Linked DNA regions of Homo sapiens: region 1 is linked to region 2. Evidence: fine-mapped expression QTL. A gene starts in region 2. The other region holds a variant in brackets. All regions are shown on one strand. Distances are between the middles of the regions.

Region 1 (16,333 bases), 21 kb before region 2:
CAGCTAAGTTTTGTATTTTTAGTAGAGACAGGGTTTCACCTTATTAGCCAGGATGGTCTCGATCTCCTGACCTTGTTATCTGCCCGCCTCGGCCTCCCGAAGTGCTGGGATTACAGGTGTGAGCCATTGCGCCCGGCCAGGAGTCTTCTTTTTTGTTGTTGTTGAAATGGAGTCTTGCACTGTGGCTCAGGCTGGGGTGCAGTGGTGCAATCTCGGCTCACTGCAACCTCTGCCTCCTGGATTCAAGCAATTCTCCTACCTCAGCCTCCAGAGTAGCTGGGATTACAGGCACCCACCACCACGCCCGGCTACTTTTTGTATTTTTTGATAGAGACGGGGTTTCACTATGTTGGCCAGGCTGGTCTCAAACTCCTGACCTCGTGATCTGCCCACCTTGGCCCCCCAAAGTGTTGGAATTACAGGCGTGAGCCACCACACCTGGCCCCCCCTTTTTTTTTTTTTTTTGAGACAGAGTGGAGTGCAGTGGCACGATCTTGGCTCACTGCAGTCTCTGCTCCCGGGTTCAAGTTATTTATTTATTTATTGTTTAGACAGAATCTAGCTCTGTCGCCCAGGGTGGAGTGCAGTGGCGCGATCTCGGCTCATTGCAACCTCCACCTCCCAAGTTCAAGAGATTCTGCCTCAGCCTCCCGAGTAGCTGGGATTACAGATGTGTGCCACCATGCCTGGCTAACTTTTTTTTTTTTTTTTTTGTATTTTTAATAAAGACGGGGTTTCACCATGTTAGCCAGGATGGTCTCCTGACCTCGTGATCTGCCCACCTCGGCCTCCCAAAGTGTTGGGATTACAGGCATTAGCCACCATGCCCAGTCTTTTTTATTTTGAGACAGTCTCCCTCTGTTGCCCAGGCTGGAGTGCAGTGGTGTGATCTCGGCTCATTGCAACCTCCGCCTCCCAGGTTCAAGCGAATTCTCCTGCCTCAGCCTCCTGAGTAGCTGGGATTACAGGTGCACACCACCATGCCTGGCTAATTTTTGTATTTTTAGTAGAGACGGGGTTTCACTATGTTGGCCGGGCTGGTCTCGAACTCCTGACCTCGTGATCCACCCTCCTCGGCCTCCCAAAGTGCTGGGATTACAGGCGAGAGCCACCGTGCCTGGCCTAGGAATCTTATTTCTAAGGAACAAGGGTTCCATGGGGGAATTCTATCTTGCAGGGCTATTGAGAAGATCACATGAGATAACATACAGCACCTAGAAAATATTTAACTAAAGTGAGTTGTCCTTTTCTTCCATATCAGAGACATCCCTTTGGGATTTCAGGCATGTTGTTACTAGTTGGTAGAGTGGAGGTTGCTGTTACTTGTGAGGTGTTGAACTCATTCAGATTTAGTGAATGTGAATCTGAGGACTGGAAATCACCGTCTACTTAAGTTCACACATGTATCAAACATCACCTGCTAGTTCATTTCTCAGCCCAAGTCAGCCTTGGGCATTCCTGGCAGAGACAGCAGACTCAGCCCTTGCCATAGCTGAATGAGGTCTAGGAAGCTCAAAGAGGCTAGTTTCTACATTTATGAAATGAAAAAGTGACCACCTCATTCACTCATTCCAGCATTTGTTTTGTGCCAGGGACTGAGTTAGGAGCTGGGGATTAGGAGGTGGACCTTGCCACGGAGTCCTCTCTTAGAGGGGAGATGGACTTGTACCTAGACATTTACAGAGCATGTGATCACGGGCTAAAATGAGTATGTTCACATGGAGCTATGGCGACAGAATGTGTGCCTCATTGTAGTGAAAAAAAGACTGCTTCGAGGAAATAACTCCAAATAGGAGTACAAATAGGAGTGCTCTAGGCCAGTGTGGTCCTGCTCCGGCAGTATCAGCGTCACTTGGGAAACTTGTTAGAAATACAAACTTTTAAGGCTGGGCTCGGTGGCTCATGCCTATAATCCCAGCACTTTGGGAGGCCGAGGCGGGCGGATCACCTGAGGTGAGGAGTTCGAGACAAGCCTGACCAACATGGTGAAACTAAAAATATAAAAATTAGCCGGGCATGGTGGTGCACGCCTGTAATCCCAGCTACTCAGGAGGCTGAGGCAGGAGAATCACTTGAATCCAGGAGGCGGAGGTTGCAGTGAGACAAGACTGCACCACTGCACTCCAGCCTGGGCGACAGAGCGAGACTCCATCTCAAAAAAAAAAAAAAAAAGGAAGAACAAACTTTCAGGCCCATCCAGACCTATGAAATCAAAAGCTCTTGGGGCAAGGGAAGAGACAGCATCTGTGATTTTTTTTTTTTTTTTTTTTTTTTTTTTTTGAGACAGAGTCTCACTCTTATCCCCCAGGCTGGAGTACAATGGCATGATCTCGGCTCACTGCAACCTCTGCCTCCCGGGTTCAAGCGATTCTCCTGCCTCAGCCTCCCAGGTAGCTGGGATTACAGGCGCCCGCATGCATGCCTGGCTAGTTTTTTTATTTTTAGTAGAAACAGGGTTTCACCATGTTGGCCAGGCTGGTCTCAAACTCTTGACCTCAGGTGATCTGCCCACCTTGGCCTCCCAAGGTGCTGGGATTACAGGTGTGAGCCTCCACACCCAGGCAGCATCTGTGTTTTGATGCACACTCATTTGAGAAGTGCTGGCCTGGAAGGTTGGAGGCCATATCAAAATGAAATCATTATATGCCAGAGGACAGCTACTGTGATTAGGAGAGCTTTTCTGAAGGAGCAATGGTCAGTTAGTTCAAGGGATGTTAGCAGGCCATAAGTAGTCCCAGCTTCTAGGGAGGCTGGAGCAGGAGGATCACTCGACCCCAGGGTTTGAGGCCAGACTGGGCAACATTTAAAAAAAAAAAGGCTAGTCCTTGTGGAAGAATGCTCAGAAGTCACTGATGCATATCCAGGAAATTGTTTTAAAATTGTTTCAAGAGCCCTGGAATGCCTCTGGTAAATCCCCTGAAATAGACCAATCCTGTTTCACCTAATGCTCCACAAATGAAGGGGACGACAAGGGCACCTTTGTTCATGGCAGCACTGTCAGTCCCAGTATAGAAGCATGGAGTTATTTAATGAAAGGGTCACTGATTTCAAATTCTAGGCAACTGGACCCAAGATAAATTGCAAACACATTTAACCTCTTCATGTTACATTATGGCAGAACACTGACCCTTAGGTTTGGTAGGCTAGGAGCGTAGTAAATAGGCCGGGAAATGACTTCATAGATTCGATTCCCATGTCTCTCTCCCCTTTTAGGTGGTTTTTCTCCTCTGTGCCTATGTTACAGTGTACATGATATATGGGAAATTCCGTAAAACTTTTGACAGTGAGAATGACACATTCCGCCTGGAGTTTCTTCTGGTCCCAGTCATTGGCCTTTCCTTCCTTGAAAACTACAGTTTCACTCTGCTGGAGGTAAGGGAATGGACTGAGTACCAGTTCTCAAAGGGAAATATGCTCCCTGCATCCTTCCCTCCAGACCCTGGGCTTGCCTTCTGCTTACAACTGTGACCATTACTCATGTATCTTTCAGTTATAAGTTGAGAAGAAATTGACAAGCTATTTACAATGCTTTAGTTGGAAATGAGCACATCTCAATAGTCATGATGCCCATAAACCAAGCAGGCATCACAGCCCTACTTCTGGCTGTTGAGACGTTCTGTTCAACCGATTAGCAGATCCCTGTATCCCTGTAGCACAGTCCAGGCCCAGAAATTTCAACTCAGTAAGTTTGGACTGTGGCCCATGAATCTGCAGGCAACAAGCATCATGGGAGATTCTGATGCTGGTGTTTATGGACATGACTAATTTTTTATTATTTTTTTGAGATGGAGTCTCACTCTGTTGCCCAGGCTGGAGTGCAGTGGCAGGATCTCAGCTCACTGCAACCTCTGCCTCCTGGGTTCAGGTGATTCTCCTGTCTCAGCTTCCCAAGTAACTGGGATTATAGGCACGAGCCACCACACTCAGCTAATTTTTGTATTTTTAGTTGAGACGGGGTTTCACCATGTTGGCCAGGCTGGTCTCCAACTCCTGACCTCAAGTGATCCACCCACCTCGGCCTCCCAAAGTTCTCGGATTATAGGTGTGAGCCTGGCAACATGACTAGATTTTAAGAAACTGTGGCTTCAATTATGATTTTATACTATGAAACTATCATTTAAGTTATTTTTGGCCGGGCACGGTGGCTCATGAGGTCAGGAGATCGAGACCATCCTGGCTAACACAGTGAAACCCTGTCTCTACTGAAAAATAGAAAAAAAAAAATTAGCCGAGCGTGGTGGCAGGCGCCTGTAGTCTCAGCTACTCGGGAGGCTGAGACAGGAGAATGGAGTGAACCCAGGAGGTGGAGCTTGCAGTGAGCCGAGATCGCACCACTGCACTCCAGCCTGGGAGACAGAGCGAGACTCCATCTCAAAAAAATAAATAAAAAAGTTATTTTTGGCTGGGTGTAGTGGCACATGCCTGTATGTAGTCCCAGCTACTAAGGAAGGTGAGATGGAAAGATCACTTGAGCCCAGGAGTTTGAGACTGCAGCAAGCTATGATCATGCCACTGCACTCCAGCCTGGGTGACAACAGCAAGACCCTATCTTAAAAAAAAAAAAATTAAAAGTAGTTTTCTATATAAATGCTCACGCTACACTGTGAAAAAAGCAGTGTACTGTATAATCTTTCAAAAATTAGAAAAAAAAACCCTTATATTTACCTAGAGATGGTAGGTTAAACTGATTAAAATATTATAATTTTTATTGAGAACTTTTTCCCTCCTTACTGTACCTTCTCCAGCAAGCTATTGTTTTAGTAATTATGTTCTTTTAAGATGGGCCTCTTCTTGGTCTTGCTCAGTCTCTGGTTGCTTTCTCTTTGGCTCAGATCCTCTGGACTTTCTCTATCTATCTGGAATCAGTGGCTATCCTGCCCCAGCTCTTCATGATCAGCAAGACTGGAGAGGCTGAGACCATAACTACTCACTACCTGTTCTTTCTGGGTCTGTACCGGGCACTCTACCTGGCTAACTGGATCAGGCGGTACCAGACTGAGAATTTCTATGACCAAATTGCAGTCGTGTCTGGAGTAGTACAAACCATCTTCTACTGTGACTTCTTCTACTTGTATGTGACCAAAGGTAGGTCCTGGGATGACAGCAATGCTGACACTGGCCTAAGGAGTTACTCATCCATTTAATAAGTATTCCAGCAGATACAGATGTGAACAGTCAAGTCTCTGCCATCCACAATGCTTGTGTTCTAATGCAAGAAGACAAATATTTTCAATAAAGAAACAAATGCCATAAAAACATGCAGGCCAATAGGTTATGTGTACTATGCAAGACAGCTGTGAGATGACATTTGACAGAATACTTGGTTAGTAGTGAAAAACATTCCAGAACTTATTACAAGCCCCAAGGCAACCACCAGCTTGGTGTGATGGACAAAAAGCCTAGTGGGGTCAAAATCTATAAACCTGGAGATGAGTCAACCAAGACCAGTTCACATAGGGCAGGGGTGTCCAACCTTTTGGCTGCCCTGGCCCACACTGAAGAATTGTCGTGGGCCACACATAAAATACACTGATAGCTTATGAGCAAAAACAAACAAAAAGACACTTCATATGTTTTAAGAAAGTTTACAAATTCGTGTTGGGCCACAAAGCCATCCTGAGCCGCGGGTTGGACAAGCTTGACCTAGCGCCTCGTAGGCCAGGGTAAGGGGCTTGCACTACATTCTGATTGCCAAGGGCAGGTATTGGGTCATTAAAAAACCCAATCCACTAGCTGCTATGTAGGGTAGAAAGCAGTCCAAGTACAGTGACTAGCTATGGGGCAGTTGCAGTTGATCAGGAAAAAGGCTCTAGGTAGAAAGACATGTGGACACAAGTTCTAGGACTTGAGAAGGACTGCTGATTTGATTGTATGAGATGTACAATAGACAATTTGAGGCCAATCGCTAAGTTTACAGCTGGGGGGAAGGGTGCCAGTAACCAAGTCGGGGATCAGTAGGTCCATAGTCAACCGGAGATGGACTCCCCCTTTGCTTTAACAATCGAACATATACTGTGAGCCGGCCATTAAGAGATGATACCAAGATTATGCATCAAGTTATAAAGCAGTCCTTTCATCAGATGGTAAATTCTTATTTCATCTCCATTTTCTTCCAGTCCTTAAGGGAAAGAAGTTAAGTCTTCCAATGCCAATCTGAGGACCTTCAGAGACAGTCTACGCCTTAACAAGCACATGAAGGAAACTATTTTGAATGTTCTCTTTGGCAACTTATCCATAATTTGGGATCAAATGTTAAAACCAGAAAAGTGTTTAGTGTGGATTTCAGCAAAACCTGATCATCCCACCCAGAAGACCTTCTCATCAATAGATCGCCCTTAAAGACCCATTGTAAGGTCATAAAAAACCTCGGCCACCTGCACAAAGATGGTGCCTCACTGCAACAAGAAACCTTAAGGTGTCTTACCGACGAAATAAAAAACATAAATGATTGTTCTCCAAGGCCTGAGGGCAAGACTCATGATGAGCAAGTCAACCCCAATCTGGAACAATGTCCCTCCTCTTAGAATGTCCCAACTAAAGACCAGTTAAAATATTAGGGTACGTTCTTGTGAATTTCCACTTTCCAGGTAGATGACCAAATTTAGGTGGTCAAGATATAAAGGTGTCAGCTAGTTTTAAGTGTGAAACTTATTTCACTTTCACACTGCCTTCAGGCCAGAAGCAAACCAAATTTACCAGGTTTGGCTGGAGGAGTTTTGTGACTCATCTTTTACTGGTTTGAATTTTTTCAAACCAGTGGCTGATACCTGCCTTGTACTTAGTACCTTAATACCAATAACCTAATGGTACTTAGGCGAGTACCATTTGCACAATCACTGTTTTACTTATGAGCAGATACAGATATATCCAAACCCTTACCTACTAGGTATCCTGCTAGGGTTTTCAATTCCAATTCTTGTATTAAGTTTTTTCCTTTCAGTTTTAGGTGCGAAAGTAATCAGTCAATCCAATATCCCCCATCTTTGTCTTGAAACAAAAACTGTTTTAAGACGTCTACGTTGAATTATTCAGAGAATTAAGCAATAAAAGCTCACACCTTATTGTCAACAGTGTTTTTATTTATACCTACAAAAAGAAAACAAGATGATGGTATCAAAAGGACAATTTACAAACTAAGAATAGTAACATAGCTTTCAGCATCCTGTGCCTGAACATCACACATCTACAAGTCTTTCAAGTCTTAATGCAACAGGAATGTGTCTGGAGACCAGCAAGAACATCAATAGAGAGCACTGATCCCAAGCAAAAGCCACTAACCTTTTAGATGAGAAGTCCACACAACGAATTGTTAGGGAGGATTGGGGAGAAGCAGCCCATTGCTTAATACATTGGAACCCTTTCCCTAAGTTGAGTTTCAACCATGAATGCAATAACTAGCATAAAACGATTCTTCTGCTCATGTTCTGAAGCCAACAGCAGAACCTGAATTATAAGTGACAGACATGGAGGCAGAAGAGTTAAACTCTGCTAGATTTCAGCTGTGCTCAGGCCATAATAGTTTTTGAGGTTTGGAATTTACTGTTATTTTATGATTACAATGTCCCAGGTGGAAAAAGGGAAGCAAGCAATCCAAATAACCACTTGCTTGCCCAGAGACCTTTCCCTCAAACAGATGCTTTCAAGAGCTGCGAGAGAGTAGGGCATCCCTTGTGGTGGTACCTCTATGTTTAAAGAAAGAAGAAAAAAACCCAGAATTTGGTTGTAGAAAACAATGCCCACAACAGACTGGCCAGTGCTTAGACAAATTTGGGGTTGGGGGGAACACTTTGGTTTGAAAGCACAGAGCAGTTTGCCATGTTTCTTCTGTGCCTACCATTCTCCCTTGGCCTCAACTTCTGTAAGATGGGGGGGGGACAAAAAGAGAAGTAAAGTTAAGAAGAAAGTGGAAAATTAAAAAAAAAGATGTCAAAGTTTTTACATGCATATATTTCAGCTTATGCTGAAGACCTACCTGTATGTTGCACATTGAATCATACTTTCAGAACCCCTCAGAAACCATCCCTCTCTCCCTAAAGAATTTTAAAAGGAAAACAAAACCTCGAGTATAGATCTTACAGATGAGCAAGCATTCAGGCCTTAGCCAAAGAATGCAGTGGAGCCTTCCCCCTTCAACTGCATTGTGAATGAATACCAATTAACAGCATAAAAATTAATAGTCCCATATCAGATCTGGAAGGGGTTTCTGGGGCTGTCTGATGTCCCTATCCTGTTGTAGTGAACACAATAGCAGAAAATTCTTTCTGGGTCCATCTGCTATAAAGTCTTGGTAAAACAGCATTACCATGAAGAGGATGAACTCACCTACCTTCAGATGGAGGAAAAGTGAAAAGGACTTAGGCTTTAGTCCTCCATGACTTTTCTTAAGCACTACCTACCTGTAATAAGCTGAGTGCAAAAGGATGCCGAAGAAAATCTGCACCCAGAAGCTGTTAGAAAGCACTGCAGAGAACAGGGTATGAAGAAAATAAAGAGTTCTTAATAAACCCTTAAGATTCTTTGTTCAAGGTAACTTTGCCAAAAGGGCAGAGTAGGTGGCAAAGAGTTGCTTTTAATCTAGCTCTACACTGCATTTGAAAATAAAATTTGCCCATTTTGAATATATTGTTTATAATTAAATGTGCTTTTTACACTGCAGGTCAATATAAAAACTGGTTAGTAAATTTCCAGCGAGCATTTATGTTCATTTGCTCACAGCAGCTGTCTGGATGGAAAATTAATTTCACAGATGGTCCCCAGTTAAACTGGGAAGAAATATAGGCAGCTTCCACCCAGATGCTGAGATGCTACAGTTTAACCACTACAATAAACACTTGTGGTTTTTAATTTAAAGGATACACAAAACTCAGCAATTCAATTTCTAGCCTGACACTAAAATGGTTATTTTTCAGTAACGGGGGGAGAAGTGGGGAGGCAGAGTGTGAAGGGAAATAAAACCAATTAGTAATTTTTAACTATCAAATGCACTCCAGCAATCAGTCAAAACAGGCCCGAGGAAACCTGTTCCAACTTAAGAAACATTTAAAAGCACAAAAGAAAATGTGCAGGGCAATCCCTCTTTGTTTTCTAACCCAGTAATGAGAAATTTAAAGCACAGATGCCATCTTCCTCTGCAAAACAATTCAGCCCTCCCCCTCCCTCCCTCCCCACCAACTCAGAAAAACAAAACATGGGGCTCCCACAAAAGGGCCTAATACCTTACTCTTTTAGATGAAAAATAGCTCAAATATCTTCAACATGCAAGAAGTTGGGGGAAGAAATTAATCTCTTCCAGTCAGCTATATATATATATATATATTT[T/A]TTTTTTTTTTACAAAATGTTATTCCAGACTGGATCATTTTGGTGGGCAGAAGAAACCTGGCAGTGAATTCTAACTAATCTGCATGAAAAGACAAATCACGATGGTTGGGGGGAAAAATTAAAAAAAAAAAAAGAAAAAAGGAAAAAAAAAGAAAAGGCGAAGAGGAAAAAAAAAGGAAAGACAGTGTTCCTTAAAATGTAATTAAGTCTGCTGGAGTCACTACCACTTGAGTGGTTTCATTTACGTGAAGGAGGAGGAGGGGGAGGAGGAGGAGGGTATTGGTAGGCAGTCTGCCCCATGTAACCTATCATATTGGTAGCTCCCGGAGGCTGTGCAAACTGTTGTGACATCAGTGGCTGTGGCTGCTGCCCAGACCGGCCTATCCCACTAAACTGCTGGCTAGAGCTCTGTGAACTTCTCCCAGTTGAGGTGGTGCTACTAGCTCCATAAGTGCCAGCACCATATTCTTGAGCTGTATAGCTACTGGTGCCATAAGCAGCTGCCCCATAGGTGCCTTGACCATAGGTGTATTGGCCTGCTTGTGCTCCAAAGGCAGAATTTGGACTTCCATAGCCACTGCCATTAGCATAACCAGCTCTATCGGTTTCACTACGATCCCGATAGCTTGCAGAGTCTCTCCGGCCACCATCCTTGACTCCTCGAAGCCTTCGGTCACACTCATCCTGATACATCAGATTGGGATTGTTGGCTGAAGAAGTGGTCCGGTAACGAGAACGACCACCTAATGGGAAGATACAAGAAGATTTTTAATGGCAGATATAGGACCTAAACATAACAATGTAAAAATTCTACTGGGTACAAAAGTATTAAACATGTCTCCTTGATATTTAGTTATGCTGGCCAGCCTCCCAATTAGTACTGTAAAAATATACTCATAATTTGATTCTTTAATGGGGCACATTCAAAAGCACAGTAAAAATTAAAGGACACTAGACCTTTTCACCCTTTTAGGCCCCTTACTTGAGGATGATCAAGAAACACGGTATTACAATATGAAACCTTGAGTCAGGAAGCCCAGATCCTAGGATATTCTGCAACTGTAGATGCAACTGCTATGTCTCAGTTTCTACCCACCACTAAACAGTGTAAAATGACTGACCTCTCCGTATGGAAAACTGGAAACCTAATATACTACTAAGCATTTTTGAAAGTATTAAAAAAGCAACCATGACCGGGGGCACACTGGCTCACTCTCGTAATCCCAGCACTTTGGGAGATCAAGGCAGGAGGGTCACTTGAGGTCAGCAGTTCAAGACCAGCCAACATGGTGAAACCCTGTCTCTACAAAAAATACAAAAATTAGCTGGACATGGTGGCACATACCTGTAGTACCAGCTACTTGGGAGGCTGAAGCAGGAGAATCACTTGAACCCAGGAGGCAGAGGTTGAAGTGAGCCGAGATCGTGCCACTGCACTCCAGTCTGGGCAACAGAGTGAGACTGTCTCTGCCCCCGCCCCGCCAAAGCAACCACATTAAAACTCAGACCAGCCTCAGCTAGGTTTGGTGGCTCACTCCTGTAATCTCAGCACTTTGGGAGGCCAAGACAGGTGGATCACCAGAGGTCAGGAGTTCGAGACCAGCCAGGCCAACATGGTGAAACTCCACAGACCAGCCTCAGCTAGGTTTGGTGGCTCACTCCTGTAATCTCAGCACTTTGGGAGGCCAAGACAGGTGGATCACCAGAGGTCAGGAGTTCGAGACCAGCCAGGCCAACATGGTGAAACTCCACCTCTACTAAAAATACAAAAATTAGCAGGGTGTGCTGGCGGGTGCCTGTAATCCCAGCTACTTGGGAGGCTGAGGCAGGAGAATCACTTGAACCTGGGAGGCAGAGGTTGCAATGAGCTGAGATCGCGCCATTGCACTTCAGCCTGGGCGACAGAGCAAGACTCCGTCTCAAAACAAACAAACAAACAAAACCAAACCTCAGACCAGTCTCTAAGAAAAAAAAATTCACAATTTAGCTTAACTAATAGGACTATCACAACAAACTTCACGTTTTCTTAGTTGAAAAAGGTTATAAAAAGCATTAGGCAGTGTCCTTTGCTATTAAGCAACATACTTACAGCCTTCTTAAAAACAGCAACTAAAAGCAAGTCACAGAAGGCGTAAAGAGATACCTTGGCAGTACCTGGAAAACTCCAGGACTTACCCTTACCCCCGCCTCCGCCGCCTCCTCTGTGGTCCACAAGCTGCATCAGTTTTGGATTGATAGCCTGATTGGCCTCTTCCAGCACTTTGATAAGCTCTCTGGCCTGTTTTAGGTTCCCTGGGGTGAAGAAGGTATAGGCGGTACCCTTGTTGGTGCTACGGGCTGTTCGGCCAATACGGTGCACATAATCCTCTGAGCTGTTTGGATAGTCATAGTTGATCACAAACTTGACATCTTCCACATCTTCCACGTCAATGATGAGTCAGTGTGTAGGTTGATGTGGCAGGGAAAGAGAAGGTAAAGGACATGCCAACAACAGGTGGGAAGCACGAATGCAGATGACAGCAAGAGGAAAGAAGGTGAAGTTAGTAACCACTCTGAACAGAAACAAAAAAAGACTCATCCCAACAGAGTAAAAGAGGATTACTGATTCCTGGGACATGCATAGGAAATAGGATCTTTATTGGCTGTAGAATCCTAAGGGAATCCCATCCAAACATCCAAACTCCTGCCTCTGCTACATTTTACCAATATACTGACAGGAGTTACACCAATATTGGTCTTCAGACGCAAATTCCAGTACTATCCTTTACAAAACCAGAACATAGAACAAAGTGGTAAACCACTGTGAAGTTATGAGGCCAAATCACTTCTACTCTGTTGGGAGAAGCCTGGCAAAATCTACCAACAACATAACAAACTTACCTTTAAACCAGTCACAGAGCAAAGTAAAAAAAGGAGCTTCATATATTTTATTACTACAATTTAAAGGAAACTTAAATGTTTTGATTAACATTTAACTTTTTTTGCTCTTATCTTTTTAAGAAACTGAGTAGAGCCAAAGCTGTTAAGTACACACCTATTTTCCTTTGCAGAAACATCCAGATTATCTATCCCCTTTCAATTACAAGAGCACATTACACTAAAATTTTACTGTACTACCAAGCCCAGCTTCTGCCAAAATGAGGATATTTTTGCTCAACTCAAGGTTATTTCAACTCAGGACTTGTTTCAATTATCAATGATTGTCTACGTGACCTGGGAAATTAAATTAATAGCCAAAGAACGTGGGAAAACCATGAAACCTTGAGACACAAGTTTAGTATTCTCTCTACTGCTGGGAATTGGGCTGAATAACCTCCTAAGGCTTAAAATGTAAATGTTAGTGTAATGCTTTCAGCTGAATGTATATTTTTACCTACTTAAACAAACAATTTTAAGAATATAACAAAGAATCCTACTGTTTTGTGGAAAAAAATCTGCATTTTACAAAGAATATTCAGAAAATATCCTAGATAAAACACAGATTTTTGTGATATAAATAATTAAAAAACATTCTCTGTTTGTTACCAGACCGATGCACACTCCCTCCTCCTTTGGGAAACCGCTGCAGCCGATCCCGTCTCTTTGCCTTTTATTTTTGGCGGCCTCCTTTCGAAAACTCCGCCTTCTGACACGGGACCACTGGAGCGCGGGGAGCATGCATCAAGGGTCCGTGGCAGTGAGAAGTCCCCACACACGCTCGCTCTGTGAACTGGCTTAGATGCTTCTCTGTAGCCCCATTTGGTTGCCAAGCGCCGGAGAACCTGGGTTCGGGTAAAAATTTCAGGTCCTCCAACGCCTCCCCCAAGGATAATTGGGGTGATTGTAGAAAAAAATAATTAATAAAAAAAAATGTAAGTTACATCCAAAGGGTCAGACTGCATCTATTGCCCAGACTGGATTAATTTCAAGGGAGAAAGGGGAGATTAAAAAAAAAAAATTAGCTGTTGTTACAGGGCTTGTGAAGAAGGGGCATTATGTCTGTTTCTTATTACAATAAAGGCTCCTCGGTCTTTACTGACCCCTAAAGTCCTGAATCACACCAGAAAGACGAGAAGGCACTTATCACAGGGGGCAGCTTGAGTCTCCGGCTAGGGTCGTTGACGCAACAAAGGAAAAAAGAATTTACAGGGCCAGGGTGGATGTAAGACAGGGGGTGGGGAATTCTACTCCATGGTATCTTCAGAGCTAGGATAATGCTCCTTATGCAATCCCACTGCATATGACCATGGCAGTAGAACAAGTTCAATTACTACACTGGATGCGTTAAGTGTGCTTTCCTAGCAGAAAGCACCAGGGTGGAGTCAACAGTTCACATGCTAATACTTGGAAGTATTTCTAGAAGGGGGTGCTCAATAGAGGGCAGACATGATGCAAGTTCTTCATACTAGAAAGGTGTCCTGTGTGTGCATGCACAGCTGGATGGGGGCACACAGGAGCAAGCGCAGAATTTGGTTTTCTCCAGTCAAGTCTACCCTGATGTTATCTGTGCACTGCCACAATATTATCTTGCTGCCTTTCTAGAAGATGCTGTAGCAGGGTAAGAAATCCAAAGTTAATGTTTTGGCCAGCTGACTGGGATAAGAACCTTTTGTCTGAAAGGCCCTATGACATGGCCTGAATCGCCAATCACTAATAAGGAGGGACTAAGTCTAGCCAAGAGGCTCATCTAGAGCTGCTTCCGGCCAATGTAGATTTGTCTCGGCCATGTATTGAGTGATCTGCAGCTGATATCAAAGCTTCTGTTAAAAAACAAAACAAAATAAATTCAATACTTTTAGTTTAACAGTGTGTAGTTCAAACAAAAAAAAGGAAAAATAAAAAATATCCCAGTGGAAAGGGAAGTGGTAGCCTAAGGATGACTATTATAAAATTATGGGAATCAAAGAACTTACCTGAAGGGAACATTTAAGAGACCATCGCTTGACAGGAAGTGAAAAAAGGCCCTGGTGACTCAGCTGAAAATTGCACCCCTGTCTATGAGGTAGAAGCCTTCACTTTCCAGGATCTTGTAGGACATTGGTCAGAATTCTGCCATTTTGGTGGGTTTTCTCCCTCTTTTGATTTTTTACAAGGCAGCAAACAAAGGGGCCCAAAACAAGCACTGATGTTGAGTAACAAGAAACAGACTCGGGTACCTTCCCTCTCCCCTCACTTGGATGAGTGGGGGTGGGATGAAGAGTCTAAGTTATTCTAATGGTAGCCAATTAATTTGGTTTAGAAATGCAAGGGGACATGGAGCAAATATTTTTAATTGTCTAGGCAAGATGCACAAAGAAGCTACCAGCACATAGCAAGCCTGTTTAAAAACCAACCATTACTGAAAGCTTTATGTAAACTGCTTTCAGGCCTCCGCCTCCTCTCCCAACAGGCCCAAGTTCTAATGGCACAGATCCAGACATGACCTCAGAGGGCAGAGGGGCAGAGAGAACTTTCCATCATGGCTGCAGGTCACCACCTCTGAAGGAGGGAATGATGAGTGCAATGCATAAAAAGGCTTCATTACTTTTGTATTCCAGTTTGAATACCTGTTCTCTTTATATTATATAGTATAAGGGAATAATATGGTACTTCTCACCTTACTGGGCAAATTAAATACCTGTCAATAATTTAAGGATTTCCTTGTAATACAAATAATCTTTTTTTTTAAAATATAGAAGTTCTGAGTTAGACCTGTTTAGCTCAGAATAGTGGGCTAAACTACCATAAAATTCTCTGTATATCTTAAATGGTAATGGGTCAAAAACTCCAGAAAATCATCAGTTGATAACACACCTACAGATAAGTGCATGGGTAGGAGGGGATAGCCAAGTGCCCATGATAATTTGACCTCAGTAAATTAAACTGGGCAATACACATATTTGCTATTCTGATACTGCATTAGACTTATAAAATTCCATCTAATAAGCATTCATAAAACTGGACCTCTCTGTATATATCTAGCTTAGACAGGGATAGGGAAAAGAATAACTGAAGAAACTAGCTTACAATAGCTAGGTTTCGTCAGGCTTATTCTATCCAGCCAGAAACCACCACCAGAGAGAAGCTGAGCCATTCAGCTGTCTGTCTCCTCTCCCTCTGTTTGAATAGTCATGCCTAGGCCTTGCTGCAGACCAAAGCCTGTTTGTTAGGAGCAGGAAGAGACTTTGAAAATAAAAGGGGGGTGGGGGAAACCAAAGTTAAAAAAAATTGTGGGGGGGGCAGGGAATGGGGAGAATCACGCTTTGTATTTTTTTCTTTCAAATATTTATCTAACCACATGTATATACAACTTTCTAAACTTGAAGTCTGAATTTGAAATGACGAATCTTTAAACCAAAAGATACATATACCATTGACAGAGACACCTATCTATACAAACCTAGCCCACGGGAGGCTACATCTGTAGCAATAAGGATGGGTGCCTTTCCAGAACGGAACTCTGTAAAAACAAACAATAATCATCATCAAATAAGCATTCCTTGCTATCTGATCTGTTTACATAACCATGTTAAAATTTCAAATAATGGTGCCAGAAAATCCCAAGCTCTTGTAATGACTGACAGTGATTCTTTTGAAAATCTTTATTACACTCATATTCAGCAGCACAATAGTTACCTCTACTAATAATGAAATACCGTTAAGAGAGTGTGGCAATTTGTTACATAATTAATATGAGCTAGATTTTTTTCCCCTTAAAGTTATTTCCCAAATGAGACACAACCAAAAGTTGGGGGTCAGTAGGAAACAAGTTCAAAAGATGTAGAATGAAAAGAACTGAATTTCCCCCCAAAAGGTATGCATATTATTTATTTTTCTTTCTTTTTTTTGAGATGGAGTTTCGCTCTTATTGCCGAGGCTGGAGTGCAGTGGCGCAATCTCAGCTCACCGCAACCTCCACCTCCCGGGTTCAAGCGATTCTCCTGCCTCAGTCTCCCAAATAGCTGGGATTACAGGCATATGCCACCATGCCCGGCTAATTTTGTATTTTTAGTAGAGACGGGGTTTCTCCATGTTGGTCAGGCTGGTCTCGAACTCC
Region 2 (16,333 bases):
AAAAACACAAAAAATCAAAACAAAAAAACAAAAAAAACCACACCAAAACCAGAAAACACTTGATTTACTGCACAGTAAATGCCCATACAGCATGCATGGTTTCTTTAAGAGTAAGACTTTGGTTCAAATGTAAGCTCAGCTATTCAATTGCTGAGTGATCTTGGGTAAGTCATTTAATTCCAAGTAAGATGAGAATGAAACCATTTCCACCTATGGAGGGTGTGGTTAAGAGTACAAATGGATAATGTAAAGCACCAAGCCTAAATAGTCGCTAAATTGTAGTTTTTCTTAGAATTACAAAGAAACTGAAACACACTTACGATTGGGCCATCTCCCCTTTCCAAGTATGGCTGGTGGTTAATATGAACAATTGCAGGCAGGAGATACTGTGGAGGGGGGAAAGAATGACAACCTTACGCTTAGAAGTACAATCTTACTTAGATACTTAGTAATTACTGAATTAATGCATAAATAGGAAAGTGAAAAACAGAACTTACCACTGCTATATACAGGAAGCAATACAAATTTGAACATAAAATGCTTCCATATATTTAATAACTAAAATAGTATCTAACTATCTGAATGGCACTTCTACGAAGAACTGAGAACGTATGACAACTAGAATAGCAAAATAAGTTACCACAATATCAAGGATCTTCTCTTGCTCATACATACCGCCAACGTCTTCCCAGAGCCAGTCTGAGCAATGCCCACCATATCCCGGCCACTAAGAGCCAACGGAAATCCCTGGCACTGAATTGGAGTTGGTTCTGTAAAGTGCTGATCCATCAACACATCCATTACATATTCTGTAAGAGAATTTTATTTTGCGTATTTTATTGTGTTTAAAGACACAAACCAAGAGTTTTTAAAAAAACTTTTAAGCTCACTGAAGATAAGATTTACCCAGCTTCATCTCTCCAAAGTGCTTTTTCTTTATCTACTAGATCTCCGACCAACTCACTGTTAGCTTCTAAGGGCCAGGCTAGGTGGCTCACGCCTGTAATCCCATCACTTTGGGAGGCTGAGGCCAGTGGAGGCCAGGAGTTCCAGACCAGCCTGGTCAACATGGTGAACCCTGTCTCTACTAAAAATACAAAAATTAGCCAGAGTGGTGGTGGGCCCTTGTAATTCCAGCTACTCGGGAGGGTGAAGCAGAATCGCATGAACCCAGGAGGCAGAGGAGGTAGTGAGCTGAGATCGCGCCACTGCACTTCAGCCTGGGTGACAACGTTGAGACTCCGTTTCCAAAAACAAACAAACAAAAGCTGCTACAATAGTCTACCTCTCCCAGAAATTTGAAAAACCATTACCCTAAAGCATCTAACAGGACATGGGAACATGGTAGTCATTTATTGTTTAGCAAATTCACATTATATCCAGCTAGAAAGCAATTTCATTCTGCTGTTTTCTAAAAGGCAGAGGGCAAAACCCTAGAAAAAGACAAAAACCTCAAAAAAACAAAACAAAAACAAAACCTCAGTCTAAATACTAGAACAGAACTGATGACCATAAAAACAATCTCTTGTCCTTTCAACAAAACCCCAAGCCTGGCTCAAAGAGTTTAACCTACTACCCTTGTCTCCCATTCAACCCAATTTAACAAATTAAGGTTCTAGATTGAAGAACACTTACGTGGGAAGTTAGCATGATGGAAGGCAAACACGGGTTTAGGACAAACATCTCCCCCCCTCACTGTAATCTCCTTCTTTCGGCGTAGCTCATCAACCTCATACTATTGAAAAAAAATGAAAGAAGTTAGTAAACTAGTTATTCTAAACATTCAGAATTTATGTTCCAAGCTAGCTGAGCAATTATCCAGTCCACAGCTATGTTGGCAAATATTTAATAGTTTACATGGTACTTTCATGTGTATCACTTTAACTCTGCAAGGCTCCTACTTACTTTGTAAGTTAATTAATGATGTAGGTGATTAAGAGTTCCATTTTCTATAGGAGAAAAAAGATAAGTAACTTGCTCAAGGTCAGAATGAGAAGGAAAAAAAAGTGGAACTTGGACCCAAGTACTCTTTCCATTACACTTTCTTCTGAAAGAGTAACCATTTCATGTGTAGAGTCCAAAAAACAATGGTAATGAGGTACAAGAAGAGACAATGTTGGCTGGGCACGGTGGCTCCCACCTGTAATCCCAGCACTTTGGGAGGCTGAGGTGGGTGGATCACTTGAGGTCAGGAGTTTGAGACCAGCCTGGCCAACATGGTGAAACTCCGTCTCTACTGAAAAAAAAAAAATAAATAATAAATGAACCAGGCGTGGTGGCACATGTCTGTAATCCCAGCTACTCGGGAGGCTGAGGTGGGAGAATTGCTTGAACCTGGGAGGCAGAGGTTGCAGTGAGCCAAGATCATGCCACAGCACTCTAGCCTAGGGGACAGAGTGAGACTTCACCTCAAAAAAAAAAAAAGCCAATCTATCTTTTTCACTAACAGATGAAAAAACATGACCTAATATACAATATTTCAATCATGTATAATAAACAGATTAGTAAGCATTATCAACAAGAGAACAAATTAAATGCATATTTAAACTGGTCCCCTTTTATGAGTATTAGGGGTCTTAGATAAGAATGTAAGAAAGGCTGGGCATGGTGGCTCACACCCATAATCCCAGCACTTTGGGAGGCTGAGGCGGGCAGATCACAAGGTCAGGAGACGGAGACCAGTCTGATCAACATGGTGAAACCCTGACTCTTGCACTCCAGCCTGGGTGACAGAGCAAGATTCCGTCTCAAAAATAAAAAGAGGCTGGGCGTGGTGGCTCACGCCTGTAATCCCAGCACTTTGAGAGGCTGAGGCAGGTCGATCACCTGAGGTCCGAGGTCCGGAGTTTGAGACCAGCCTGCCCAACATAGTGAAACTCCATCTCTGCTAAAAATACAAAAAATTAGCCGGGCATGGTGGCGGGTGCCTGTGATCCCAGCTACCTGGGAGGCTGAGGCAGTAGAATCGCTTGAACCCAGGAGGCGGAGGTTGCAGTGAGCCAAGATCACACCATTGCACTCTAGCCTGGGCAACAAGAGCAAAACTCCGTCTCAAAAAAAAAAAAAAAAAAAAAAAAAAAAATCAGCTGGGTGCAGTGGCTCACGCCTGTAATCCTAGCACTTTGAAAAGCTGAGGCAGGTAGTTTGCTTGAGCTAGGGAGTTCAAGACCAGCCTGGGGAATATGGCGAAACCCGGTCTCTACAAAAAGGAAAAAAAAAAAAAAATTAACCAAAAAATTTTTTAAGAAAAATATCACCACACTAGAATAAAATGTAAAACGGCAACAGTAGCGTATGAATAAACTCTAACCAATATATCTACTTGGTTCAATAATCTGTACATTAAAACACACATGTAAACTTACTGGTGTCAGCCTTGCTACTTCCGGATGTTCCACATAAAAATTTTTCTCAAACTTGGGGAGCTCACTCAAATCCCACTTTTTTTTACGCAAACGCTCCCCAGGATTACCAAATTTCTTCGGGGGAAGGCCACCACCACCTCTTGCTCCAAATCTAGGAACAGAATTTTTAGTTAGTTCATCAGTATTTTTAAAGCAACGTATCGTACATGCCATAAGAATATTCAAAAAGGATGGAGTTCTAGGGATACTACCAGCCTACCTCCAAAAAGACCATTTTATTTGCTGTGATTTAAAGGTATGGAGAAATGTGTAAAACCTCCCTTACTACCCAACAATAAATACTGTTTATGAATATAGCTACAATAGGCAAAAAATTAAAAATCCCTTTATTGAGAGAAATACATCCTAGGGATTACAATCACAGATTCTGGATCCAGACATGGTTTGAGTTTTTATTCTGCCACTTACTGTATAATTTGAAGAGAATTATTTAACTTCCACACACCTTAGTTTCCTATGCAAAGTAGAAATAATACCACTTATTTCAGAGGCTGCTGAGAAAATGACCTAATAATGTGTAATGTACTATAAAAGTATCTGGCATAGCCAGCACTCAGTACAAGTTAGCATCATTTCATTCAACAAATAGTTATTAGGTACCAAGTTACTAGGTACCAAGTATGTATCGGCTACTGTTTGAAGTGGTGCTGTGCTGGAGTTACTAAACAAAACAGACACAAGTCTCTATTTTTGTGTAACAGACATGCAGGCAAAGGATGACATTAAGTTAAGTTTCAATTAAAGGGAAGATTGTGGACAAGAAGGAAGATACACTCCAAGCAAGTCCCTCAATCTTAGAATAGCTTCTTGGGCCTGCTCCCCTATTAAACTGTGATAAGCACTCCACCTGTCTGCTTATCTGCAAAGCAAAACTGGGTCTTGGAAAGGACTGGTAGACTGGTCTTCATTTTTAGCTTACGCTAATAAAAGAGCTGAGCCTGCCGGGGGCAGTGGCTCAGTCCTGTAATCCCAGCACTTTGGGAGGCGGAGGCCAGTGGATCACTTGAGGTCAGGAGTTTGAGACCAGCCTGGCCAATATAGTGAAACCCTGTCTCTTACTAAAAACACAAAAGAGTAGCCAGGCGTGGTGGTGCACGCCTGTAATCCCTAGCTACTTGGGAGGCTGAGGCAGGAGAACCGCTGGAACTCGGAAGGCGGAGGTTGCAGTGAGCTGAAATGGCACCATAGCACTCCAGCCTGGTAGACAGAGGGAGGGTCCGTCAAAAAAAAAAAAAAAAAGCTGAACATAGATTTATGACCTTTCCTTCTTCTTTGATCTCTACTTTTACCTTCTATCTCCTTCTTGTTCCCAAATGGTATTATTAATTTACAGAGAAAAAAACACTAACAAGACTTATTTAAGGCTTTAACACTCAACTAATTACTTAAGATCAACTTCTTGCTTTTTATATACCTTTCACAACAGACAAGCTCAAGAGGAATACAAATATGACCACTAGCCAAAGCTAATATTTAAGAAATCAGAAGCTACTTTTCCTAGAAGAATCTTAACACTAAGATGGCCTTAATTTTCCCTATTTCGATCTTGTAAAGTACAGGTCTTTGTTTGGCATACAAACTGTATAGCATTTTCTCAGTTTCTTTACTCCTTGTAAAATATTGTACTGAATTTAGTTCCCTTTTCCCACTCTAACCCACTTGTAACTTCATCTTATATAAAGTTCCACTTTATCATTGATAGGCAAGTAGGTGTATTATTCTACAGGGCCTCAATTTCCTGCAATTCAAAGCCATTAGAACTCTGGCTTAACCAGCCAGACATTCCTCTAAATACATACGTAACAAAAATTGATGGCAGGAGATTTTATTGGGATCACTGGATACCTACACTCAACAGGCAGAACTTGGCTAATTCCATTTATACCACTACTGAGACAGTGAAGACAAATTAAGAATCAGAACAGGAAGAGCACATAGCATAGGGATACCCGTGTCAGCGACATATTTAATATGCCCCTCAGCTTAAGACTCAATACTGAACAGACCAAAAGGCCACCTCAATTGCCGCTCCCGCCACACTTGCAAATGAAGCAGCTAAATAAGGTACTTTTCAAGAGGTAGAAAGTCTTTGGATTATCACTCTTGCAAATTATAAAAGACTTCATTGTTATTGCCACATTGCAATGCTACCCAAACCTTAGTGACTTAGGAAAAAATAAAACTTGAAAGTAAGATTCCTGTTAAGGCTTTAAACTGATGATTATCATTCATGTATTTTTTTTTCCTCTCTCCTTACTTCCCTGGCTATTTATTCAAGACATTCTATTCTACACTAAACATTTAATTTGAAACATGTGGTTCTTGGAAAATATGCCGTCTTCCATGTTTATAATTAATGCTGACATAATTAATGACCTCAAAATTCAAGAAAGCCTTTTACTTTTGAGCATATCCATGCCATCTTTAAATACGCACACTGTACTCTCTGGTATACTATGCTGCTCAAATGTTTTTATCCGGTCAGTAATTAGTTTAATTTGGCTTTACAAAAAAATTCACCTTTGAAGTCATATATTAACATTAAAAACCATACTACTTCAAATGTACAATGCCTATCATTTTTGCATCACACATGTGAAATACATGAACTGACCTCACCTATTCCTTTTTCAAAATAACCACCACTTCAACTGTGTAACACTCAGTTGAAACAACAGCAATTCAAATAATCAAGAACATTTCTTGGGAAAGGGAGAGTTGGGGCACAGATCTTATGAAAGAAGGCTAGTTCGTTTGAAATTTTTAAAAAATGTCATCTGATACTCAAAGTATGGATCAGTAATTCACTTTTTTCCTTTCAAATAACTTATTAAAGCATATATATGGTGAAAGGAAATATTAAACCAAACACCAATGGTAAAGAAATAGAACACTATTAGTAACTTGTAGCCCCTCTATGTGCCTATTTCAAGCTTACAACTTTCACCCTAATAACCACTACCTTGAATTTTGTTAACCACTCCCTTTCCTATCATATTTGCACATATCCTTAATTAAATGTGTCACCCTACCACAACGTGCTTTTTAACTCAACACTTCTGTGACTTATCCACATTAATCCAAGTTCTTTTCTCTTTTTCACGGCTGATTCAATTGTACGAATACCCACAATTTATGGAGACATTTGCGTTGTTTCCAATATCCTGTTAGCACGAATGCTGGTATATAAACTTTTCTGTACAAGGATCCTGGGGTACCTGTGCAAGGATTTCTCTAGGCATTACAGTCTAGGGTATAAAGCTTAGGGAGGAATTGCTGGGTCGTTTTCAACTTTCCTAGATAATCTCAAGTTCTTTTTCTAAGTCAATGAACTGAAATTCACTTCTAAACTTAGCAATACTGTCACACGCGAAGCAAACATTCCACCTCTCATCCTCTAAACAATGAGATAAAATATTTTCCTTCCTAATAAGGTATAAATCAAAATAATTTTGTAAAAAGTGGCAACTGAAGTGCTTGAGACTAGTAAATCCAGCAGTTGTGGATCTGAACCACAAAAGACAAAAACGTTTGGAGAAAATATCGTTAACAGAGCGCCTACTACAGTGAGACTATTACATCCATTATCTCTTAATTCCTGACAACACAGCAAAGTAAAGGCAATTATCACGTTCCTCAGAGGAAACAGGCTCACAAAAGGTAGGATCTTGACCAAGGTCACACACACACATATCAAGTGGCGTCACGTAACTCTTTGGGGAAGCGGGGGGGTCGGGGGAGACGGAGTTTCGCTCTTGCCACGGGCTGGAGTGCAATGGCGCGATCTCGGCTCACTGCAACCTCCTCCCCCCGGGTTCAAGCGATTCTCCTGCCTTGGCCTCCCGAGTAGCTGGGATTACAGGCATGCGCCACCAAGCCAGGCTAATTTTGTTATTTTTAGTAGAAACGGGATTTCTCCATGTTGATCAGGCTGGTCTCGAACTCCTGACCTCCGGTGATCCGCCCGCCTCGGCCTCCCAAATCGCTGGGATTACAGGCCTGAGGCACCACGCCCGGTCCACAATACCAAGAACTTTCTAGCGAGGCAGAATAGTTGACGCTGCAGTCCAATTAGAGAAAAAAGGCTGAAATATTAAGATTAAAACTAAAGTAACGACCCAAAAACCCATCCTTCCCCCAAACACGGTCATTTAGATGGCAAGCAACTCCACTGCTTTACATCCCAATGCATTTCCTCCGACTTAAAATATAACTGAAGAGAATTAAAATCTATTTCTAAAAATGAGAAGTTGGTCTTTTCGTCTCCCGTGCCTTAAACAGTGAACTCTGGGGAGAGAACGTCAAGGGTGCCATTTCGTGTAAGGCTTTCCTGGGCTGAAGTGTTCTCTCAGGAAGATCCGCGTTTTTCAGATGAACGCCGAGGCCTGGAGACATCGAACAGCCCGCCCGAAGCGGCCCGGCTCGAGAGCCGGGAAACCAGGCGAGGCGCCAAAGCCCGGGCCTGGGCTGATGCGGCCAGGCCGCCCCTCCCGATCCCCCGCGGGGCTGGGATGGGGCCGGGCCGCGCCACGACGGCCGTCCGCACGGAGAGGCCCAGCGTCGCCAAGCGGCCGCCCTCCTCGGGTCCCGAGTGACCCCGGGGCCGAGGTCCGCGCACGAAACCGCTGTCTCGCCTCGAGTCGCCTCCCCTCGCCTCCCGGGTCGAGAGCAAGGCTCCCAGGCTCGCAGTCCGCCGGGCCTCCCCAAGAAGCAACTCCCCCACCCCCACGCCAGGCCTCTCCTCTCCTCCCCCACCCTTACCCTCCACGGTCACGATCCCGGTCCCGGTCCCCAAAGCCTCCTCCGCGCATGGTCCCAAAAGGATAGAGATCTGGGAGCGGGGCACGGATGGCCGGGCTCGGGAGGGCCTGCGGCTCCGGTCTGGTGACGACCGATGGCGGCGGCGCCTCCGCTGTTGGGGCGGCGGCAGGCGCAGCGCTCTCTCGCTCCGACGCGCTGTCTCCCGTCGCAGACGCCACCGTCGCCGCCTCTCTCGTCGGAGACGGGAGCAAAACACAGAGAATCGGGGCTACAAAGCCGGTGGGCAGGTTTGGCTACGCTCAAACCGGGCAGTGCCGCGGTTTAGGCGTCTCCTTCCTTCCCAGCGACTGCACAAAATGGCGGCCGCCGCTGAGTCGGCTCCAACTTAACGCTGCGTACGGCGGAGACGATACGTAAACAGCGCCTCGGAATAGCCCGAGGGCTCCGCGGGGAACTACGGGTATTCTTGGAAGCACTTTACGTCAGTTGCGACGATGGGTGTATTTTGCGGTCTGTACAAGAAAAACAAAGTACGGAGCGAGCGTAGAGTTCTCGCGCCACCCGAACTAGAACGTGGGATGAGGTGGGAGGAAGCGCCTCTGGTGCGACGTAACATTCTTTGCGTCGTTAGCCGGCCTGCTGTTGCTAAGATGCGCAGTATGCGTAACGCATTCTGTTTAGAGAATAGAGGATTTTGCCTGATTCCGATCTCGGTACAGACCCCGCGGCCGGCTTGAAGAAGTTGCTTTGCAGAGACAATAACCGTCCTCCATATTGTTATCAAGTTTCAGAGTCCTCTGGCGCCAGAGGCCGGGAGGGTCTTAAATTCCGTGGCTGGCCTTCCTATATGGCGCCGCCAGCCCTCTCGCCCCACCGCCCTGGGCCCGCTGAGAATGGCGGCGGGCCCCGGCGCCATTTCCTTTCCGTTGCCTTTCGCTGCTCTGTCTCCGGCAGCCATGATGGAAGAGCCGTGTCCCTTTCTTTCCGGAGTTTGTGAGGTGGCGATGTCCCTTCCAGGTTAAAGTGCCCTCAGCTACATTTGGTTCACACTGAGGTGCATTTTCTGAACCGTATATTTTTACCGTCCCTGGCCGAGCACAGCTGTTGCTAATACAGAAACAAAATGTGCTTGGAGGCCAGGCATGGTGGCTCACGCTTGTAATACTAACACTTTGGGAGGCCGAGGCGGGAGGATCACCTGAGTCCCGGAGTTCGAGACCAGCCTGGCCAAAATGGCAAAACCCCGTCTCTACGAAAAATACAAAAATTAGCAGGACATGGTGGCGGGTGCCTGTAGTCCCAGCTACTTGGGAGGCTGAGGCAGGAGAATCGCTTGAACCCGGGAGTCGGAGGTCGCAGTGAGCCGAGAACGTGCCACTGCACTCCATCCTGGACGACGGGGCAAGAATCCGTCTCAAAAAAAAAATTGCTTGGAGCCCCAGTGGACTCCGTGGGCCCTTTGCTGCCGTTGAACGGCGCTCCTCAGAAGGCCCGGAGAAGACCCCAGCACTCTCAGGAGAACAAGGTTTCAGAGCGATGGTCTTTAGACACAGAAAGGGCGAAGGCTAAGGACAAGTGTTTAACCAGGCTAGTCCACGTTCTCCGCTCAATTCCTTCCAGACTGGCTTCCCTCTCCTTACCTGCTTCCTGTCGTCTCAAACTGCATTTTGAAGCCCCGCAAGCTTGGCCAAATGGCGTCACACGACTGTTGAGCTGTTAGGGCCCTCGAGACGGGCCCATCTAACGTCTCAATTCAACAGATGGGTAGAAGCGGGGAGATTTGGCCCCTCAGTGTGGGTGCTGAGTGTTTGTTTCCCAAATTTTTGGGAACATAGCATAAGAAAAGGAGCTTCAAAAAGAAAAAAAACATGGACCACTGATTTTTCTGTGGTTATGTGTTCTTTTTCCCCAAGTACGTTCTTAACATTGGCAAGTGAACCTCTTAAAGTGATTGAGACTCGCCTGGGTCATATTCTTTTTCTTTTTTTTGTCTGGAGTGCAGTGGCACAATCTCGGCTCACTGCAACCTCTGCCGCCCGGGTTCAGGCAATTCTCCTGCCTCAGCCTCCCGTGTAGCTGGGATCACAGGTGCTTGCCCTCGCACTTGGCTAATATTTGTAGTTTAGCTGGGGTTTCACCATCTTGGCCAGGCTGGTCTTGAACTCCTGACCTCGTGATCCACCCGTGTCGACCTGCCAAAGTGCTGGGATTACAGGCGTGAGCCACCGCACCGGCCTGGGTCATGTTCTTTTATTTACACTGTTAACCTGCCCCAATCCTCATCATCTCTTGCCTGGATGACTGCGCTCGCCTCTTTTTAATCTGCCTGCTCCTGTCCTTGCTCACTCTGAATTTATTCTTCACACTGCAGTCATAGGGGTCCTTTTATTATGTCACTTTACTTAAAATTTTCCAGAGGTTTCCACTTGAAAGAAAAGACAAAGGCCTTACAGTGGCCTACAAGCCCTTGAGGATGCAGCCCTCTTCTGTCTTTCCTCCTTGTTCTACTCTAGCCACACTCGGCCTCAGGGCCTTTGCACTCGCTCTTTACTCTATGTCAGCAAGGCTAGATACCTCAGTTTAGGTCTGTGCTCACATGTCACTCAATCAGGGAGGCCTCCCCAGAACCCAATGCAACACTGCATAACCTGCATACTCTCCTCCTTCACAAGTACACATGCATTCTCTCTTTTCCATTTTTCTTTGCTTTCATTTGAATTAGTAACTGCTTGACATAAACACTTTTTGTCTCCCTCCTAGAGCGTAAAATCTGTGAGTGCAGGAACTTACTTGTTCACCACCGTGACCCAGTGCCTACCTGGCACAGTGCCTGACCTTTTAGCCATTCGACCACGCCATACCCTTGTCCAGTGAGTCTGTGACTGTCCCTTTGTGTTTCTGGGCCAACTGACATCTCAACGGCTTTTGTTTTTTGAGACAGAGTCTCGCTCTGTCGCCCAGGCTGGAGTGCAGTTGGCTCACTGCAACCTCCGCCTCTTGGTTTCAAGCGATTCTCCTGCCTCAGCTTCCTGAGTAGTTGGGATTACAGGCATACGCCACCACACCTGGCTAATTTTTGCATTTTTAATAGAGACAGGGTTTCACCATGTTGGCCAGGCTGGTCTGAAACTCCTGAATTCAGGTGATCTGCCTGCTTCGGCCTCCCAAAGTGCTGGGATTACAGGCGTGAGCCACCTTGCCTGGCCTTTGTCATCAACTTTTATTTTAATTCTGGGGTACATGTTCAGGATATACAAGTTTGTTACACAAGAAAACGTGTGTCATGGTGGTTTGTTGCACAGATCAACCCCTTGCCTCGGTATTAGGCCCAGCATCCGTTAGCTATTCTTCTCGATGCTCTCCCTCCGCCGACCCCCAACAGGCCCCAGTATGTGTTGTTCCCCCGCTCCATGTGTCCGTGTCCTCTTCTGGGTCTTTGATAGTCTTCACTGATGCTTTCTGCTCACGCTCAGATAATCTGCATTTTCACGTAAGATAAAATAATCATAGAGCAGAGGCAGCAGTCAGCTATGTGTTTGTTTCAGGCGAGCAGAGGGATGACTTTTTAGTTTTGTCCTTTGTCCTGTGCTTGTGATGGTAAACCATCAATGTACATTGTCGGGGTGAAATTCAACGGAACTGTTTTAGTGTAAAGATCTTGGAGGCCCACAAGGAATTTCTTTGTGGGCAAATTGTGAGAGGCCTATGTAGCTTTTTTTGTTTTTTGTTTTTTTTTAGAGACAGAGTCTCACTCTGTCGCCCAGGCTGGAGTGCAATGGCGCGATCTTGGTTCACTGCAACTTCTGCCTCCTGGGTTCAAGCAATTCTCCTGCCTCAGCCTTCTGAGTGGCTGGGATTACAAGCATGCGACATGACGCTAATTTTTATATTTTTTAGTAGAGACTGGCTTTTGCCATTATTAGCCAGGCTGGTTTTGAACTCCTGACCTCAAGTGATCCACCCACCTTGGCCTCCCAAAGTGCTAGGATTACATGGCCACCGCATCTGGCCTTCATTATATATTACGGTGTAATAATAATATAAATAGGCCGGGCCTAATAGAAATAGTCTGGCTAACATGATGAAACCCCGTCTCTCCTAAAAATACAAAAAAATTAGCTGGGCGTGATGGCGCATGCCTGTAGCTACTCAGGAGGCTGAGGCAGGAGAATCGCTTGAATTGGGGAGGTGGAGGTTGTAGTCTTAAAAATGGTATTTACAGGCTGGGCACAGTGGCTGACGCCTGTAATCTCAGCACTTTGCGGGGCTGAGGTGGGCAGATCACTTGAGGTCAGGAACTCGAGATCAGCCTGGCCAACATGGTGAAACCCCGTCTCTACTAAAAATACAAAAAATTAGCCAGGTGTGATGGTGGGCGCCTGTAATCACAGCTACTCGAGAGCCTGAGGCAGGAGAATGGCTTGAACCCAGGAGGCGGAGGTTGCAGTGACCCAAGATGGCACCATTGCACTCCAACCTGAGCGACAGAGCAAGACTCTGTGTCTAAAAAGACAGAAAAAAGAGAAGTTTCCTCTAGAGCGCTGAATGACAAGAGACAATGTGGAGAGAGAAGTCTCATACTTACAAGTATATCCTGCCAAGACCCCAGATATACAAGTGAGGCCATCCCAGACCCTTCAGCCAGCCTACTAGCTGAATGTAGCTGCGTGAGTGAGCTATTTCCTTCCTCCCCGCAAAATCCCTTATCTTTTTCTTCATGTTTTCATCTTAGGATATGAAAAGGAAACTGCTGTAGTTGTTTTTTAACCATGAAGGGAACTTTTGGAGAACAGAACCAGCACACCGAAGGTGGGGAAAGTGGAGAGAAGGAAAGAACCTGGGCCCTTGATGACATTATAGAGTCACTGTATTAGCCAACTGTGGAGCTGGTTGACTTCTGGACTTCTTATTTGAAATGACATGCTTCCTCATTGTTTAATCTACTTTTTTGAGCTTTGTGTTACTTGTAGCTGAAAGCATTCTAACTGATACACTCCTCAACCAGCTCTTCTAATACAAGTACAAAATCTGAAACAAGTCAGGCATGGTGGCATGTGCCTATAGTCCCAGCTACTTGGGAGGCTGAGGCGGGAGGGTCGCTTGAGCCCAGGCATTTGAGGTTGCATTGAGCTATGATTGTGCCACTGCACTCCAGCCTGGGTGACAGACTGAGACCCCATCTGTAAAACAAACAAACAGAAAATCTGAAACACCTTGCATAGTATACAATAGGCATTCAATAAGTTTATCATTAATGAGGAAGTAAAAGAAGATTTTGTTGTAAAGAATGCTAATTGCTTATCCAACAACCATTCTCCCTTTCTCCCTTTTCAATTAAGAGTCAGGAGGCTGGCGCTGTGGCTCACACCTGTAATCCCAGCACTTTGGGAGGCCGAGGCGGGAGGATCCCTTGAGCCCAGGAGTTCAAGATCAGCCTAGGTAACATAGTGAAATCTCAGCTCTACAAATAATAAAAAAATTAGCTGGGTGTGGTGGTGTGTGTGTGTGGTTCCAGATACTTTCCATATACGTGGAAGGCTGAGGTGGGAGCGTCACTTGAGCCCAGGTGCTTGAGGCTGCAGTGAGCTATGCTTGCCCCACTGCACTCCAGCCTGGGTGACAGAGAGAGACCCTGTAACCTCTGGAAAAAAAAATTGAGCGAGAGAGAGAAGACAGGGTCTTGTTCTGTCACCTGGGCTGGAGTGCAGTGACACGATCACAGCTCACTGCCATCTTGAACTCCTAGGCTCAAGCGATCCTCACGCCTCAGCTGCTGAGTACCTAGGTCTACAGGTGCTCATCACCATGCCTGGCTCCTTTTCCTCCTTAATAACAGAACTCCAAATTTTAGCTGGGCATATTGATGTCTGGAACAAAAGTCTGTATTTTCCTACCTCTTTTGTGCATGGGTATGGCCAATGAGATATAAGCACAAGTGTTGTATGGTAGGGCTGCTTTACAGGAGCTGAGTCAGCTAGACAGAGCTTTTCCTTCTTTTTTTTTCTTTTTGCCCTTCTGCCTTTTATCTTTCTTTCTTTCTTTGAGACAGGGTCTCACTCTGTCACCCAGGCTGGAGTGCAGTGGCACAATCTTGGCTCACTGCAACCTCTGCCTCCCGGGTTCAAGAGATTCACCCGCCTCAACCTCCTGAGTAACTGGGAGTACAGGCGCATGCCACCACACCCGGATAATTTTTGTATTTTTAGTAGAGATGAGATTTCACCAGGTTGGCCAGGCTGGTCTCGAACTCCTGTCCTAAAGTGATCCACCTGCCTCAACCTCCCTAAGTGCTGGGATTACAGGTGTGAGCCACTGCACCCAGACTGCCTTTTATCTTTCTTCTCTCAACTTGGTTTCTCTGACTAGAGCTCCAGCTGCCAACTTAGGCAATGAGCTGACCTTGAAGACGGAAGTCAAAAATTAAGATGGTCAAGCAGAAAGATAGAGGCCTGCGGGCCTGATGACAAAGTGGACCCACTGTAGTAGCATCTCTGGACTGCCTAGCTTTAGATTTCTTTTCTATGAGAGAAAAATAAACCTGTATTTTGTTTGGGACACTTATTTTGGGGGTTTTCCCTTATATTCAGTCAAGTAAAATCTAAGCTATCCCTTTAACAACTTCCCTCTCAAAATATTGAAGCCTGGCGTAGGAAAGCACGTGAAGAGTATGAATAATGAGAGCTGTCCCACCCGAGTGTTAAGCAAGCCCCTCCTGGCTTCCCTTTCTCCAGTCCCTGAAGGCGGCACTTGAGAGGCACTCTGTTGTTACCTTGGTTGGAGTTCTAGATGGCAAGTGATAGAATCTAACTGGCTAACTAAGGCAAAGGGAAACTTATTAGAAAGACATTAGGGGCTGAGCGTGGTGACTCATGCCTGTAATCCCAGTGCTTTGGGAGGCCAAGGCGGGTGGATCACCTGAGGTCAGGAGTTCAAGACCAGCCTAGCCAACATGGCAAAACCCCATCTCTATTAAAAATACAAAAATTAGCTGGGTGGGGTTGTGCACACCTGTAATCCCAGCTACTCGGGAGGCTGAGACAGGAGAATCGCTTGAACCCAGGAGGTGGAGGTTGCAGTGAGCCAAGATCACACCACTGCACTCCAGGCTGGGTGACAGAGCTAGAGTCTGTCTCAAAAAAAAAAAAAAGGACATTAGGGTTCATTGAATTAGCAGAAGACTGCAGAAACAGCCTGGGCATGGATGGGAGTCTGAGCCACTCAGCAGTCTAGGAGCCGGAAACCCCAGTCTAGCAGCAGGAACAGCCTGGTCAGGCCTCTGCCACTGCTGCTAGGCCCTGCTGCCCCTGCTCCCCCTGCTGTCACTGCAGGTGTGAGCAGCCTCTAACCCCTGCTGTCATCCTTGTGACTGTCACTTCATATTCAATGTCTCAGGATGCACTACCTGAATTGGGGAGAGGTGACTCTTTGAAAGAAAACAAGTGTTATTATGATGGAGAAATGCAAACTGTGCAACCAGAAAATGTGAAACATTTGCCCTAACAAGCCAGGGTCAGTTGAAGGAGTCCTGACTAGCCACACTTGGTGTCTAAGGCCCAATCCTTCTCCTCACCATGATGAAAGATATCCCTTGTATCTAATCTCTTTCTCTTTCTCTCTCTCTTTCTTTTTTCTTTTCTTTTTTCTGAGACGGAGTTTCACTCTTGTTGCCCAGGCTGGAGTGCAGTGGCACCATCTCGGCTCACTGCAACCTCCGACTATCCGGTTCAAGCGATTTTCTTGCCTCAGCCTCCTGAGTAGCTGGGATTACAGGTGCGCACCACCAAACCCGACTAATTTTTTTGTTGGGGTTTCGCCATGTTGGCCAGGCTGGCCTTGAACTCCTGACCTCAGGTGATCCGCCCTCCTCGGCCTCTCAAAGTGCTGGGATTATAGGCGCGGGCCACTGCGCCTGGCCCAGAATGAATAATCTATGAGGAAAAAGGCATGTTCCTAGTGAGTTTTCTAACTTGATGCATCCCACCAAAGTTAGAAGCAGTAACTTGGCTACTGTGTGGGGAAGGCCTGTTTGAAAACAATAGCAGCACGGAAATCAGCAGAGCAGGAGATGGAGGCAGCAAGATCGAGTCCTGAGGCTGCTGTCGACACCTTGGCTTCACCTGTGGCTGAAGTCAGCTCTTCCTCTGGAT

Direction of the effects. Alleles are on the strand shown, and positions count from the first base shown. SD is a standard deviation of normalised expression in the study named.
For the expression in monocytes after interferon gamma of the gene that starts at base 8,547 in region 2, allele T in region 1 goes with a higher level than allele A (moderate effect, 0.74 SD a copy in Fairfax 2014).

Evidence for each region. PIP is the estimated chance that this variant, and not a neighbour inherited with it, causes the effect.
Region 1: its variant is fine-mapped to the expression of DDX17 in monocytes after interferon gamma (Fairfax 2014, PIP 0.95).

The regions. Positions count from the first base shown.
Region 1 is chr22:38,476,380-38,492,712 of GRCh38, forward strand. KDELR3 (KDEL endoplasmic reticulum protein retention receptor 3) reads left to right here. Exons shown (of 5, transcript NM_006855.4): 3 at 3,214-3,372; 4 at 4,833-5,085; 5 at 6,117-7,068. The coding sequence ends at 6,157. It overlaps DDX17 (DEAD-box helicase 17), which reads right to left. Exons shown (of 13, transcript NM_006386.5): 11 at 15,677-15,736; 12 at 11,500-11,736; 13 at 7,059-10,061. The coding sequence ends at 9,556. Among named protein-coding and RNA genes, the nearest start is that of KDELR3, 16 kb to the left of the region's middle. The variant T/A (reference allele first, on the strand shown) is at 9,319.
Region 2 is chr22:38,497,765-38,514,097 of GRCh38, forward strand. DDX17 (DEAD-box helicase 17) reads right to left here and starts at 8,547. Exons shown (of 13, transcript NM_006386.5): 1 at 8,187-8,547; 2 at 3,366-3,516; 3 at 1,636-1,735; 4 at 676-809; 5 at 321-386. The coding sequence starts at 8,473. It also overlaps a transcript of DMC1 not described here. RefSeq lists enhancers at 7,612-8,503, 8,383-8,572, 8,504-9,395, 8,973-9,382, 14,979-15,787 and silencers at 7,823-7,992, 8,023-8,292.